2 separate regions of the Homo sapiens genome follow, and region 1 is linked to region 2. The links come from fine-mapping of genetic effects on gene expression. Tissue or cell type: whole blood. Region 2 holds a variant in brackets; the other region holds the start of a gene. All regions are shown on one strand. Distances are between the middles of the regions.

Evidence for each region. PIP is the estimated chance that this variant, and not a neighbour inherited with it, causes the effect.
Region 1: it holds the start of FAXDC2, and the variant in region 2 is fine-mapped to the expression of FAXDC2 in whole blood (TOPMed, PIP above 0.99).

The regions. Positions count from the first base shown.
Region 1 is chr5:154,847,475-154,855,653 of GRCh38, reverse strand. FAXDC2 (fatty acid hydroxylase domain containing 2) reads left to right here and starts at 5,051. Exons shown (of 9, transcript NM_032385.5): 1 at 5,051-5,171.
Region 2 is chr5:154,817,485-154,825,663 of GRCh38, reverse strand. FAXDC2 (fatty acid hydroxylase domain containing 2) reads left to right here. Exons shown (of 9, transcript NM_032385.5): 6 at 2,072-2,277; 7 at 3,087-3,192; 8 at 4,238-4,404; 9 at 5,192-7,172. The coding sequence ends at 5,348. It overlaps LARP1 (La ribonucleoprotein 1, translational regulator), which reads right to left. Exons shown (of 19, transcript NM_033551.3): 19 at 8,059-8,179. Among named protein-coding and RNA genes, the nearest start is that of MIR378H, 7.9 kb to the left of the region's middle. The variant C/T (reference allele first, on the strand shown) is at 4,961.

The DNA of each region.
Region 1 (8,179 bases), 30 kb before region 2:
AACATTGGATATGATGCTGTACTCATGGATATCGCAAAATTAGAATAATTTTCCAGAAGTCACTGCTTCCCAGTCGGAAGGAAGCCCCTAATGAATGAGAGGGTAGTTGGAAAAGAATATATTCAGTTACATCATTTCATATTTGAGAAGAAAACTCTATTGCTTTTTGAGATGAGGGTCTTGCCACGTTATCCAGGCTGGTCTTGAATCCCTGGGCACCCAGCCTCAAGTAATCCTCCTCACTCAGCCTCCTGAGTGCCTGGGATTACAGGTGCATGCCGCTGCTCCTGGCCCCTATTGTTTTTGAGCTGCAAACTATAGAAAGTCAGGTTCGAACAAATCTCATTTGGGAGGGTATACGTTTTTGTTTTTTGTTGTTGTTGTTGTTGTTATTTTTCATTTTTTTTGAGACGGAGTATCGCTCTTGTTGCCCAGGCTGGAGTGCAATATCGCGATCTCGGCTCACCGCAACCTCTGCCTCCTGGGTTCAAGCGATTCTCCTGCCTCAGCCTCCGAGTAGCTGGGATTACGGGCATGCACCACCACACCCGACTGATTTTGTATTTTTAATAGAGACAGTTTCTCCATGTTGGTCAGGCTGGTCTCGAACTGCTGACCTCAGGTGATCTGCCCGCCTTGGCCTCCCAAAGTGCTGGGATTACAGGCCTGAGCCACCACGCCCAGCAGGAGAGTATAAGTTTAAGAAAATTGAGAAGGCCAGGCGCGGTGGCTCACGCCTGTAATCCCAGCACTTTGGGAGGCCAAGGCGGGCAGATCACGAGGTCAGAAGATCGAGACCATGCTGGCCAACATGGTGAAACCCCTGGATTAGCTGGGTGTGGTGGCACACGCCTGTAATCCCAGCTACTCGGGAGGCCGAGGCAGGAGAATTGCTTGAACCCGGGAGGTAGAGGTTGCAGTAAGCCAAGATCACGCCACCGCACTCCAACCTGGCGACAGAGAGAGACTCCATCTCAAAAAAATTAATAAATAAACAAAATTGAGAAACACTCGTTATAAAATGAATGGGACCCCTTAAGAACCACACAGCTGGCTGGGCGTGGTGGCTCACGCCTGTAATCCCAGCACTTTGGGAGGCCGAGGAAGGTGGATCACCTGAGGTCAGGAGTTCAAAACCACCCTGGCCAACAAGGTGAAACCCCGTCTTTACTAAAAATACAAAAATTAGCCGGGCATGATGGCAGGTGCCTGTAATCCTAGCTACTAAGGAGGCTGAGGCAAGACAGTCGCTTGAACCTGGGAGGTGGAGTTTGCAATGGACCAAGATCATGCCATTGCACTCCAGCCTGGGCAACAGAGCCAGACTCCATTTCAAACAAAAAAAAAGAAAAAAAGATAGGATGGAGAGAAAACCCAGGAAGGCTGGAGAGCTTCTCACTAGACAGATGCTCTTCTCTATAAGGCTTGCTCAGCAATCAACTATTTACTGAAGACCAGTGTTATTAGTGCCAGAGTTATTACTGCCATGGAAATACATAAAGACCCTATATGAAATGATTGTAGGAAAAAAAGTACCTGCTACTCCAGGGAGTGTTGACCACTTAAACTACAAAAGTTCAAGAAGAAAAGAATTAGGCCGGGCACAATGGCTCACACCTGTAATCTTAGCACTTTGGGAGGCTAAAGCACTTTGGGAGGCTGAGGCAGGAGGATCACTTGAGGCCAAGATTTTGGGACAAGGTTGGACAACATAGCAACACCCCATCTCTTAAAAAAAAAGAGAGAGAGAGAGAGAGAAAAGAACTGGAGGCACAATACTTGACAGGAACAGGAAGGAAATTCCAGGTGAGAGGATTAGCGTAAGCAAAGATATGGACATGGAGACAATAGGAAATAGGAAAAAAAGTTTCTGTACATCATAGTAAGTGAACAATAAATGTTTGCACATGACAGTGATGCTTGGCATTAGAAAGTAGGAAGGAGGCCAGGCACAGTGAATCATACCTGTAATCCAACAATTTGGGAGACTGAGGCAGGAGGATTGCTTGAGTCAGGAGTTCAAGACCAGCCTGGGCAACATAGCCAGACTCTGTCTCTCCAAAAATGTTTTTTTTTAATTAGTGGGGCATGGTGGTGTGTGCCTGTAGTCCAACTGCTTGGGAGGCTGAGGTGGGAGGATCACTTGAGGCCAGAAGGTTGAGACTGCAGTGAGCCATAGTTGAGCCACTGCACTCCAGCCTGGGTGACAGAGTGAAACCCTGTGTCTAAAGAAATTTTTTTTTTTTTTTTGAGGTGGAGTCTCGCCCTGTCGGTCGCCCAGGCTGGAGTGCAGTGGCGCAATCTCGGCTCACTGCAACCTCTGCCTCCTGGGTTCAAGCGATTCTCCTGCCTCAGCCTCCTGAGTAGCTGGGACTACAGGCGCCCGCCACCACGCCTGGCTAATTTTTGTACTTTTAGTAGAGACGGGTTTCACCGTGTTAGCCAGGATGGTCTCGATCTCCTGACCTCGTGATCCACCCGCCTCGGCCTCTCAAAGTGCTAGGATTACAGGCGTGAGCCACTGCGCCCGGCCAAGAAATTTTTAAAAATAGGCCAGGTGCAGTGGTTCATGCCTGTAACCTCAGAACTCTCACCTGAGGTCAGAGTTTGAGACCAGCCTGGCCAACATGGTGAAACCCTGAGTCTTCTAAAAATACAAAAAAAAAAAAAAAAAAAAAAAATTAGCCAGGCGTGGTAGCAGGCGCCTGTTGTAGTCCAAGCCACTCTGGAGGCTGAGGCAGGAGAATCGCTTAGAGGCAGGAGAATCGCTTAAACCCAGGAGGCGGAGGTTGCAGTGAGCCGAGATTGTGCTACTACACTCTAGCCTGGGCAACAGAATGAGACTCCATCTCAAAAATAAAAATAAAAAAATTAAAAAATAGAAAGTAGGAGGGAATAGGAAATAATATCATCTGAGAGGAGCCAAACTAAAGTGAGTCTTGGAAGTCTGGTAGCACAGGTTTGTTCAGTGCACAAGATAGACTTGGTCAGCTGGAAAATATAGACATTCTGCAATATCTGGAATATTGAAAAAAATTAGTATCTCTGAAAGGAGAGATGAGGAAAAACATGAACAAGTTGTACAAAATGTAATTAATTTGTGAGCAAGCATTGAATGTTTACTGAGCCCTTGCTTTGTGCAACGAATTAGGCAAGGAAAATGAGGAAGACATGGTCCTTTATTGGCCAAATAAAGTATGACACATCTATACAATGGGACGGGAGGCAGCCATTAAACAGAACATGGCAGCTCTTAAGGGTACTATATGGAGCAGTCTCCATGTTTTGTTGTTGACAGTTTTATTTATTTTAGAGACAGGGCCTCATTATGTTGCCCAGGCTGGTCTCTAACTCCTGGGCTTAAGAAATTCTCCTGCCAGGCCAGGCACGGTGGTGGCTCATGCCTGTAATCCCAGCACTTTGGGAGGCTGAGGTGGGCAGATTATGAGGTCAGGAGTTTAAGACCAGCCTGGCCAATATGGTGAAACCTCATCTCTACTAAAAAAAAAAAATACAAAAATTAGCCGGGCCTGGCAGCGCACACCTGTAGTCCCAGCTACTCGGGAGGCTGAGGCAGAAGAATCGCTTGAACCCAGGAGGCGGAGGTTGCAGTTAGCTGTGATCATGCCATTGCACTCCAGCCTGGGTGACAGAGCAAGACTCCATCTCAAAAAATAAAAAAAAGAAATCCTCCTGCCTCAGCCTTCCAAAGATTGCTGAGATTACAGGCATGAGCCACTGCACCCGGCATTTTTTATTTTGTTTTGTTTTTTAGAGACAGGGTCCCACTCTGTCACTCAGGTTGGAGTGCAGGGCACAATCATAGCTCACTGCAGCCTCCAACTCCTGGGCTCAAGCCATCCTCCCACCTCAGCCTCCCCAGTAGCTGGGATAACAGACATGTGCCAGTAAGCTCTACTAATTTTTTGTATATGTAGTAGAAATGGGGTTTTGCTACATTGCCCAGGCTGGTCTTGAACTCCTGGCCTCAAGTGATCCTCCCGTCTTGGTCTTCCAAAGTGCTGAGATTATACATGTGAGCCGCCGTGCCCAGCCAAGTTTCTGAGTTTTGTTTATTTTAGAAAGGAGTCTTCCTGTGCTGCCCAGGCTGGTCTCAAATACCTGGGCTCAAGTGATCCTCCAACCTCAGCCTCCCAAATAGTTGGGACTACAGGTGAGCACCACCATGCCTAGCCAATCTCCATGTTTGATTGTTAAGTGGAAAAAGCAAGGTGCACAACAAACATACTATGGTGCTGTTGCTAAAGGAGAAGCACAAGGCCTACACATGTTTCTATTTACAGAGGTAAGCTCTGGAAGGATATACAAAAATCTGGTCACAGAGGTTGTCTCTTGGGAGGAAAAAAAGGGGACTGAGGAGAAATTAAAAAAAGACTTTTCATTGTACATTCTTTTGACCCTATTGTATTTTATATCATTTGCACATTTGCTTATTTAAAAAGTTTTCAGAAATTTAAAAGCAGCTCTTTTTCCAAAGTGCTCCTCACTTCATGTCATGGGTCCTGTATCCTAAGTTCCCCTATTTCAATCACAGTGCAAATTTACCCTCCACAGGCATGCCTTTCCTGCATCTAGACTCACTAGAAATAGCTGATGCATCTCTCCTCCCTTGCCTGCCCTCCACAGGAAAAGAAGCAATGAAAAAAAAGAAAATGAGATCCTCTGGTCTCTGTCACCTTTTTATCAACTTGTACTACCTGCCATTATCTGACACCCACATCTTTTCTTGAATCTGCCTCCTCCTATGGGACAGCGACATTTTCTTAAGTTGCAGATGATGGAGAAAATTTTTTAAAAGAAAAAAAGGGGGCAGGGGGAGGGAAGCCCAGAGTTTGGCCAAATGCACGTTTTTCAAGTTCCTGCTTGAGCTTAGATTCCCTTTCCGCTTTAAGGACATGCCCTCTGGAAAGAAGGGTGTTTTGTTTCCAGCCCACACAGACCCAAACTTTTTTCATCACGTGCCTGGTCCGAGCCAGTACGCAGCTCTGTAATGAGATCACCATGGCCAGCCTCCCACCCGAGCAAAAACAAGGTTAGCCTGCAGCAGAGCCGCAGCAGCAACAGCCACCAAAGCGGGGGCTGAAAGGGAAGAGAACTTAGATTTGACCTGTGCAAGGACCTCAGCAGCTTGGACACAGCCCACTGCAGAGGTAAGTGGGAACTACGGGGGAGGGGTGGTGTTTGCAAAGGTCAGGACATGTCCAGGTTCACTTAAAGTAAGGGCAAAACAACACTCTTCCCACCTCTGCCACCACCCTGTCCTCTCTACTTATGGCAGGGTTAGATTTGCCTCTAAACAGGGTTAGATGGCAGGGTTAGAATTTGTCCTAGGACATTGCTGTAGTGCAGTCGCCTCCTTGTCTCTTACTAATGTCTGTATCCTCTGCCTGTGTTTGTACCATCTACCTCCTCAGTAGTCTAATTTTTCTAGCAATTGACAGGTGATTGTAATGGACAAGTAATTGTTTGACTTTAAAACCATTTGTAAAGGAGCAACTCCTAATTCAGAACTCAAATGAGAGGCAGAACAAACTGGAAGAGACTGTTGGGAAGCAACTGCTGCCTAATTGCTTCTCATCTCTACTCTGCCATCACCAGGAAGGTATGGGGCAAAATACAACAGTTTTAAAGTCTCTGGATAGATGTGTGGGCTATGAGCTAGACAAGTAGGTTGAAACTGTTTTGATGCAACATACTTGGATTTACCAACAGTGGCTCCAGTTGTGAAATCGTTAGTGGCTTGATAGTACCTATGGAAACACTCCACGAAGGTTATTGAGTAAAGGGCATACAGTAAAGTGTGTAGGTGGAGATGAACAATAGAACAGTGGCTTTCAGGACCTTCTGGGGCTTAAGGCAAGCAAGACAAGATGCTGATTTGTGGGTTGCTTCAGTTTCATGTGCAATTCCAATTAAATTTCTTTGAGTGGGATATACAGATTCAATTCAATTTGCTAAAACACAGATGCACTGAGCATCAGCTTCTAACTTTAGTTACGAAAGTAATTAGCACAAGGGAATGGTGCTAAAATGTTCCATAGCAAATGTTGAACACTTTTTGAGGGCAAAAAGCAATGCTTTTGATTCGTGTATCTCTTATTTATTCGGCAAATCTTTCTTGAGTATCTTCTACATGCCAGGCTTGGGCTTGATTCTGTGGATCTCGTGGTAAACAAGACAGGCAGATTCTCGGCCTCATGGACATGCAATCAAGCAGAACAGTAAGCTCAAAGGGTGCAAGTACCATGCAGCAAAAGGAGTGAAGAGAGTATTACTAAAACTGGCCCATGGGAATCATTTTTAACCTTTCCTTTCATGCATTTCATCTTCTGTTTTTGTTTTTTTTGTTTTTTGAGATGGAATCTCGTTCTGTCACCCAGGCTGGAGTACAGTGGCGCGATTTCAGCTCACTGCAACCTCCACCTCCTGGGTTCAAGAGATTCTCCTGCCTCAGCCCCCCAAGTAGCTGGGATTACAGGTGCCCGCCACCACACCCAGCTAATTTTCGTATTTTTAGTAGAGATGGGGTTTCACCATGTTGGCCAGGCTGGTCTCCAACTCCTGACCTCAGGTGATCTACCCACCTCGGCCTCCCAAAGTTATGAGATTACAGGCATAAGCCAACGTGCCCAGCCGCATTTCATCTTTGTTTTTTTTTGTTTTTTTGAGACAGACTCTTGCTCTGGCGCCCAGGCTGGAGTGCAGTGGCATGATCTTGGCTCACTGCAACCTCCGCCTCCCAGGTTCAAGCGATTCTCCTGTCTCAGCCTCCAGAGCAGCTGGGATTACAGGCGTGCACCACCACACCCGGCTAATTTTTATATTTTTAGTAGAGACGGAGTTTCGCCATGTTGGCCAGGCTGGTCTCAAACTCCTGACCTCAGGTGATCTGCCCACCTCGGCCTCCCAAAGTGCTGGGATTACAGATGCGAGCCACCGCTCCTGGCCGCATTTCATCTTCTTAAATGAATATCGGCCACTCTATCTTCTATATAAGCCTCAGATTAGTACAGATGTTGAGTCATAGCAGCTCCTCAAAACCCTCTTCACCAGAGGCTTTAAACTGTGTAATTACATTACAGGTCAGTCTCCTCAGCCCTGGAGGTCGACTGCTCAGCTTTTTCCTAGCATACAGTCTGAGAGCAGAGGCTGAAGTAAGGGGAGTTCTAATCTTTGGGTCAGTTGCCCTCTCCCTGTGTCATTTCTTATGAAATAGAAGTTATGCTATTCCCAAAATACATACAGCACTAGGCAAAGTGTTAAGAAGCCTAGATTTTGCCAGAAACCATGTGGAGTTTGGAGCAAGTCATTTCTACTAACTAGGGCTTCCTCCTTAGCTTATAAAATGGAAGGGGTAGACCAGATGAACATGAGGTCTTTTTTCTCCCCCCTCTAAGAGTAAATTGTCTCAACAATTTTACAAGTTGTTTACAAAACAATACACATTCACATAAAGGTGATGTATTTATATCTATAAAATAGGAACATTCAGTAGGCCGGGCATGGTGGCTCACGCCTGTAATCCCAGCACATTGGGAGGCCGAGGCGGGCGGATCACAAGGTCAGAAGATCAAGACCATCCTGGCTAACATGGTGAAACCCTGTCTCTACTAAAAATACAAAAAATTAGCCAGGCGTGGTGGCAGGCACCTGTGGTCCCAGCTACTCGGGAGGCTGAGGCAGGAGAATGGCATGAACCCGGGAGATGGAGCTTGCAGTGAGCCAAGATCGCGCCACTGCACTCCAGCCTGGGTGACAGAGCAAGACTCTGTCTCAAAAAAAAAAGGAACATTCATCAATCATGCAGAATATCCAGGAAACAAGAATATGAAAGAAAATCTGGGCCAGGCGCAGTGGCTCATGCCTGTAATTCCAGCACTTTGGGAGGCCAAGGTGGGTGTATCACCTGAGGTCAGGAGTTCAAGACCAGCCTGGCCAACATGGTGAAACCCCGTCTCTACTAAAAATAAAAAAATTAGCCAGGCATGGTGGGGGTGGGTGCCTGTAATCCCAGCTACTTAGGAGGCTGAGGCAGGAGAATCGCTTGAACCCGGGAGGCAGAGGCTGCAGTGAGCCAAGGTCATGCCATTGCACTCCAGCCTGCGCAACATGAGCGAGACTCCATCTCAAAAAAAAAAAAAAAAAGAAAGAAAGAAAG
Region 2 (8,179 bases):
TTTTTTTTTTTTTGAGACGGAGTCTCACTCTGTCACCCAGGCTGGAGTGCAATGGAGCAATCTCGGCTCACTGCAACCTCCCGGGTTCAAGTGATTCTCCTGCCTCAGCCTCCTGAGTAGCTGGGATTACAGGCGCACACTACCATGCCTGGCTAATTTTTGTATTTTTAGTAGAGACAGGGTTTCACCGTATTGGTCAGGCTGGTCTCAAACTCCTGACCTCGTGATCTGCCTGCCTTGGCCTCCCAAAGTGCTGGGATTACAGGCATGAGCCACAGCACCGGCCTGCCTTTTTTTTTGATGGAGTCTTGCTCTGTCACCGAGGCTAGAGTGCAGTGGCATGATCTCGGTGGCTCACTACAACCTCCGCCTCCCGGATTCAAGTGATTCTCCTGCCTCAGCCTCCCGAGTAGCTGGGACTACAAGTGCATGCCACCACGCCTAGCTAAGTTTTTGTATTTTTCGTAGAGACGAGGTTTCACCATGTTAGCCAGGATGGTCTCAATCTCCTGACCTCATAACCTGCCCACCTTGGCTTCCCAAAGTGCTGGGATTACAGGCGTAAGCCACAGCGACTGGCCCTTTTTTTTTTTTTTTTTTTTTTTAACAAGATTGGGTCTCACTCTCTCACGCAGGCTGGTGTGCCTTAAACTCCTGGACTCACATGATCCTTCCACCCCAGGCTTCTGAATAGCTGGGACTACAGGTGCACACCACCACATCCAGCTTTTTAAAAAAAATTAGATGGGGTTTCGTGATGTTGCCAAGGCTGCTCTCAAATTCCTGGCCTCAAGTGATCCTCCCACCTCCACCTCCCAAAGTGCTGGGATTACAGGTGTGAGCCACCGTGCCCAGCCTGATATATATGTTTTTATATTTGTTGTGTCTAGTCTACCTTTCTCACTGGAACATAAATTCCATGGGGGCAGGAATCTTTGTTTTGCTCATGCTTTATTTTCAACACCCAGTACACTGAGTGCTACATAGTGGGTACTCAATAAATATCAGTTAAATAAATAAATGAATAGATAGATGTGATACCCCGCCTCTTGGTCAAGGTTTCCAGAAGGTGTAATGGCCTCACCTAACATGTCCTCTCACAACAGGCTGGCGAGACCTGGCCTCGCAATGGGATGGAAGTAAACAAAGAGTGAATTCTGAAATCAGTTAATGCATGCAGTGCCTGGAAAGGCTGGAGGAAGAGGCAGGCCTCAAGCTGGGGACCATTCTGAACCTGTCGCGCTTTGGGGCAGAAATCCCTCCAGCTCACAGAGGGAACTTGGAGAAATCCCTTCTAACCAAACAAGTTCATCAGGATCCAGGAAGTAATCTATGGTCACAGGACTGTTGCCTGGAGCCCCAGTGCTCTGACAAAGGGAAGGGTCAAAGGGTTGCTGATTCTGGGGGAAATATTGGCTGCAGTATTGAGGCCAAATGGACTTTGGACACTTGGGACCAGCTCTGTACAGTGGACCCTGGTGGAAATGCTTGGGCAGGCCCCCATCTTCACAGCATCACTGTGAAAACCAGCAAGTTGGTCAAGAAGCTGGATAAGCAGTTCCTTGGCTTACCTGCTTCTTTGCTCTGGGCCTACTGCAGGGAGGCTGGACCACTTGAGGAGGCAGATGATCTTGATCTCTGCATCCAATCATGAACAAGGTTCTCTGATGAAGAGGGGCTAAATGGCTGAAATGGGGTATCACTCAGAAAGTCACAGCCTTCTCCAAGCACCATGGAGGCTACCCAAGTTACCTGTAAATACATGGGGCCTGGCCAGAGAAATGGGGAGGGCAGTGGTGATAATGTGCAGAACCAGGAAGAAGGCAGGTTCCGACACAGACTGAAGGCTGCTGAAGTTTCCAAGGACAGGGGTATTACTCACCTGCCTAGCAGCCAGGGCCTTATTCTGCAACGTTTCCAGGCCCAGAGCTGGGTGGCAGTCAGGAGCTACTGGCTGTCCCCCGACATCTCTCCCAGAATCCAACCAGAGTGAGGGCCTCCTGTAAGCAGGTCACGGTGGAGCCTACTTCTCACACTCTTATCCATCTCCCTCCTCCCTTCCCTTGGGCAGGTGGATCCTGTGAAACTGCGCCAGTCTATCCGCACAGTTCTTTTCAACCAGTGCATGATATCTTTCCCCATGGTGGTCTTCCTCTATCCCTTCCTCAAATGGTGGAGAGACCCCTGCCGCCGTGAGCTACCCACCTTCCACTGGTTCCTCCTGGAGCTGGCCATCTTCACGCTGATCGAGGAAGTCTTGTTCTACTATTCACACCGGTGAGCAGGCCCTGCCTGAGGCACAGCTGGCTCCTCATCCTGTCTAGGGCTCACTGATCAACAAGGAAACTGAGGCCAGGTGCAGTGACTCACGCTTGTAATCCTGGCAATTTGGGAGGCTGAGGTGGGCGGATCACTTGAGCCCAGGAGTTTGAGACTAGCCTGGGGAATGTCAGGAGACCCCGTCTCTACAAAAAAATTTAAAAAATTAGCCAGGCATGGTGGTGTGTACTTGTAGTCCCAGCTACTTGGGAGATTGAGGTGGGAGGATCACATGAGCCCGGGAGGTCAAGGCTATAGTGAGCTGTGATCACACCACTGCACTCCAGCCTGGGCGAAAGAGCAAGACCTTGTCTCAAAGAAAAAAAATAAAAGGGAACAGGCTTCTGAATTGAGTGTAGGCCAGTAAAATACTCCCTGGCCTCAAGTGTCCCATTAAATAGTTAACAGGGAGACCACTAGTTGTCTCATAACTGACAACTTGGGACAACTGAGGAATGAATGTCCAAAAGAGAAAAGGCCTCTCTGATTGTGTGGGAGCCAGGGCAGTTTCCCATTCATTTCCTTATTCAGTCCTTTCTGGGCAGCATCCCATTTTACAGCGAATACAACTGGCATAGAGAAGCAAAGCAACCCACTCCCAAACTATGCAGTATAAGGGCTGGGGTTGAAATTTGAAGGCAGGTCTTGGTGTTGTTAACTTTGCTCCATGGATGTAACCCCTAGTTCCTATTTTTGGTTTCTCATGGTCTGGTCGGGGAGGGAGAAAGAGGAATCAGCAGGTTATTAACTATTAACTATTTCCCCAGGCTCCTTCACCACCCAACATTCTACAAGAAAATCCACAAGAAACACCATGAGTGGACAGCTCCCATTGGCGTGATCTCTCTCTATGCCCACCCTATAGAGCATGCAGTGAGTAGAGCTCTATGCTCCCCAGAGCAAAGGGCAGATGGCCCCAACCACCTTCCTGAAGGTCTCCTGCAGAGAACTTAGACCACACCGGCCCTTTTTCTTCCCATTTAAAAATAGCTACCATTTATTGTCAGCCTTCCATATGCCAGGCTATGTTAAGTGCTAACACAGTTGTCTCATTTAATCATCCCAACAACTTTCTTTTTTTCTTTTTGAGACAGGGTCTTGCTCTGTCACCCAGGTTGGAGTGCAGTGGTGTGATCATAGCTCACTGCAGCCTCCAACCCCTGGGCTCATGTGATCCTCTAGCTTCAGTCTTCCAAATAGCTGAGACCACACGTGTGCACTTCCAAATAGCTGAGACCACACGTGTGCACCACCAAATCTGGAGTCTCACTGTGTCATCTTGGCTGGAGTGCAATGGCATGATCTCGGCTCACTGCAATCTCCCGCCTCCCGGGTTCAAGCCATTCTCCTGTCTCAGCCTCCTGAGTAGCTGGGATTACAGGCGTGTGCCACCACGCCTGGCTGATTTTTGTATTTTTAGTAGGACAGGTTTTCACCATGTTGGTCAGGCTGGTCTCAAACTCCTGACCTCGTGATCTACCCGCCTTGGCCTCCCAAAGTGTTGGGATTATAGGAGTGAGCCATCGCACCTGGCCACATCTGGCTAATTTTTAAATTTTTTTGTAGAGTCGGGATCCTGCTATTTTGCCCAGACTGGCTGGAACCCCTGGCCTCAAGCAATCCTCCCACCTCTGTCTCCCAAATTGCTGGGATTACAGGCATGAATCACCACACCTGGCTCCTCCAACAACCTTTTTAATCTTAATTTTGCTAACAAGAAAGTTGAGGCTCAAACTGCGTAATTTGTCCCAAGTTACAAAGGTGAATGCCTTCAACAAATCAAAGTCCCGAAACTCTCACCTTCTCCAGATCTGGGTCAAGGAAGTTTGCCTCTGGTACCACCTTGGGACTAAGTGTATACCCAACTAAGTCCCTTCATCTCCCTGGACCCTGCCTTCAATCATCCCTCCTCTTGCAGGTCTCCAACATGCTACCGGTGATAGTGGGCCCATTAGTAATGGGCTCCCACTTGTCCTCCATCACCATGTGGTTTTCCTTGGCCCTCATCATCACCACCATCTCCCACTGTGGCTACCACCTTCCCTTCCTGCCTTCGCCTGAATTCCACGACTACCACCATCTCAAGTAAGGACCTTCTCCCCACAATGGGTCCCTAGGCAACAACCATCACCCTCCCTCCTTAAGCTTCTGATAGCAGGCACTGGTATCTCAGTTTACATGTGAGTGCTAGTTGGGGAAGAGGTCTGATGGCTGGGAAAATAACCACACTGGGATGACCTTACTCTTTTCCTTCTGAAATTGGGTCCTCCTCCAACTGGGGGTTTTAAACCTTTATTTGGACTCTGGGCCCTTTGAATAAGCTCTGGACATTCTCTTTAGAAAAGTACATATATGCATAAAACTCCTGCAGGCAATCACAAGGAAGTCATGTATCTCTGAAAGCCCCAGACTTTTTCAAGTGTAGTCTACAAACCTCCTATACCAGAATCACCTGAGATGCTTGTTTAAAATATAGGCTCTTGAATTCCACTCCAAATATGCTGAACTAAGGTATCTGGGGGAGCAGGGCCTGGAAACCTGCATTTTAGTTAAGTGTTCCAGGGGATTCTGATGCTGGTGATCTCATACCTGAAGAAGCCTAGTTCTGCTAGAGATTCTCAGACTGTGGGCATCAATCACA[C/T]AGCAAGCTTTTCAAAGGAGGACTCCAGATACGGCAAATTGCAGGTTTGGAGTGGCCCCCGGGAGATGCATTGGTAGCAACTCCCCAGCTTATTCTGATGCAGATGGTCAGGATGGTGGTGACAGGTGTGGGGTAGGAGGGCTGAGAAATGTGTGAGGCTGGCACAAATGAAATGGGATCTGCACGGAAGCCTCCAGCATGGGCACTGCAGTGCCGTCCTCTCTCTTCTAGGTTCAACCAGTGCTATGGGGTGCTGGGTGTGCTGGACCACCTCCATGGGACTGACACCATGTTCAAGCAGACCAAGGCCTACGAGAGACATGTCCTCCTGCTGGGCTTCACCCCGCTCTCTGAGAGCATCCCAGACTCCCCAAAGAGGATGGAGTGAGAGACAGCCTAAGTGTCATCCTGGCTGTCCCTCAGCCATGGGATGCAGACACGGCTTCCTGATTGCACCTAACAATTTGCCTCCTTCGGCCACACGCCCTAATGATGGCACCACCAGGGTAGAGGGAAGGTCGGCTTCCCGGAAAAGCAGGGCCAAGGATGAGGCTTTCTTCAAACTACTGCCCTTGATGTCCCTCAATGGGATCAGGAGTTAGCTTAAGAAAAAGGAAAACACAGCTCCCCAGACTGGAGGCTGGTCAGAGGGAGGAGACCCCTGGTCCTCTGCTGTGGAAGGAGAGGGGTTCAGCCCCAGATAACTCCTTTGTGGCCTGGGCAGGATGCAGAGAATGACAAGGCTGAAAGGAGGGGGACTGGAGGCTGCCTGGCTCCAGCGAGAGCTCCTTCTGGGACCAGAGGGTGGGACGGCCAGGTATCACTTTGCCCCTTCCTGCCCCAAAAGGCTTTCACATACCCGACTCAGGCCAGAGCCAAGACACCCTGGCAAATCATTATAGGTCTCAATTCATGACATACCAGATGCCAGTCGCCACTTCACCCAACACACACACAAACATACACACACCAAACACTCTGAGTGAGTGGTAAAGGCCCCGTTTTAACTCTGGCCCACCGCAAACAAAAGGTTTCCCTCTGTGGGGGAGAAAAAGAAATCCAGGAGCTCCTCCCTGGATTAAAACCAACGAGGTGCAGACCAAACTTTAACACCTTTAGCCTTATGTGGAAACCAAAAACCAACTGCTGGGAAACTGTGAAAAGCCCTTTTACCCACAAGGGGAGGGGTCAAAGTTGCTGCCCTTTGGGGACACCCGAGACCCCTAATTAGCCTATCTGAATGAGGACCAAAGGTTAGAGCCCTCTTTCTCCCCGAAGAAAGAGCCCGGAAAAACATGGCAGAGCAAAGAGCAAAATCCTTTCTCCCCCGAATGCTTTACCAGTTTCTCAGCAACATTTATTCAAGATGATTTTTACCAGGAACCTTATCAAAGGCAAAACCACAGCTGCTTGGGTTGAAGTCCCCATCCTGGCCTCCTCTCAGCCGCCAGACATGGCCAGGAACCCTGTGGTTCCCAAGAACAATTTAAAGATCACTCTTTGATTTGAAAGACCACCATTATCATTTTACTAAATTCTTATATATACTTGTGCCTTTTCCAACTTTCAGTTCTCTTAAGAAAAACATCCACTGTAGCTTTATAAAATACCTTAGTATCAGCTAGGTCCAAGTCTCCAGGCAGGACTATCAAAATGGACTCCTTCTTCCTATCAGCTCTAGAACCCCAGAGGACTTGCCCAGTAGGCCAGCTGAGCACTTACCAGGCAGCATCTCCCTGGCCTTCCACAGTCTCGCCTGTCTGTCTCTGGCCTTGGTGGACCTGGCTCCCTCCCTAGGAGGCTTTTGCCCTCAGCTTGAATACAGTTCCTGGTGCATCAAAGCTGTAAGTTCTCAGCTGCTGGCCTGCACTCATCACCTCTTCCTACAAATAAACATTTGGAAAAAAGTCCATCTTCAATATGCTTAAAGAGAAGGGTAGGAGATAAGGAGAAAGAACAGATACGGTTTTTTTCCCCTTTAAGGCCTTTAGATTTTGAGGTACTGTAAGGGGCCTAGAAGGACAAAAGGCTTTCATTCCCTCTTCCTTTTGGCAGGCAGGTTATCAGTCCTTGGCAGAAGGGCCCAGCCCTATCCTTTTCTGTATCAAACAAAATCCTTGAGGTTGGTATACAAGTTAAGGCTGAAAAAAGGCCTTAAATTCCCAGTAAAGAATGTGAAAGCAAGCATGTAAAATAAACTGGTCTTCATGAATTCCAGTGGATAATTTTTTTTTGAAGGGAGGTGTCTACTACAAGACTTCTAATACTTCAGACATAGCATTTGGAAGCTCAGGCTGTGAAATTAAGCTGCTGTGAGCATTCCTAACGATAATTTGTGAAAGTAAGTTTCAATTAATTCATCTTTCTGTTTTCAAAGTACCAATCCGTCTGCATCAGCCCTGGACACTATCTCCTAAACTTTCCTTTGGCCTGTGGAGGTCACTGGTGGTACTGAAGTACCTGCCAACCTCAAGAACAGTGAAAAAGCACTCTCTGGAAAAACCATTTACCCAAGCCAGGTATGGGAGACAGTTGTCAGATGAACACGTAAATAAGGCCATGCCCCATTTTTAGTTTTGTAATTTATACGGGGAATGGGGGACTCTTTGTTCCATCCCTCCCCAGCATCACATCTCAGGGTTCGGGGCTGACCAGGATTCCGTAAGTCCACATGGTGCTGGATCATTCCTCCTTCACCCCCCTGTGGAAAAGTCTGTTCATAGAGGGGTTGTGGCAACCCTCCATAAGAAGCCTCATCGTTTTTCTTCTTGGCTGTCTCATAACACAATGCAGGCCACAGCCAGGGGATGGAAAACCTGGAAGCTGACAAGTGCGCTGAAATCCTGGCATTATGCTGGACTGCTGTTTTGTGGCACTGGCTATGACTGTCACGTCTCACTTAAGACACAGGGTGGACATGAACTCAAGGCTTGTAGAAGCCCCTGCCTTAGGCAGACTCCTCGAAGCCCAATGGCAGAACCCCTGCCGAGGTTTCATGTGCACATTGAGTGCAGGGTTCCTCCGGATCTGGGGGAACTCTACCAGAAACCCATCCTTCACACCCAATAGCAGTAACCTAGATGGAAGACCAGCCAGTATTTTGCCTTTTCAAGTGTTTATTTTTATACATTTTTTTGTATTAAAAAGAAAAGCATAATTACCACAAATTACAAAGGACTAAAGCAGGACTAGAATAATGAATGAATCACTTCAGCCTGG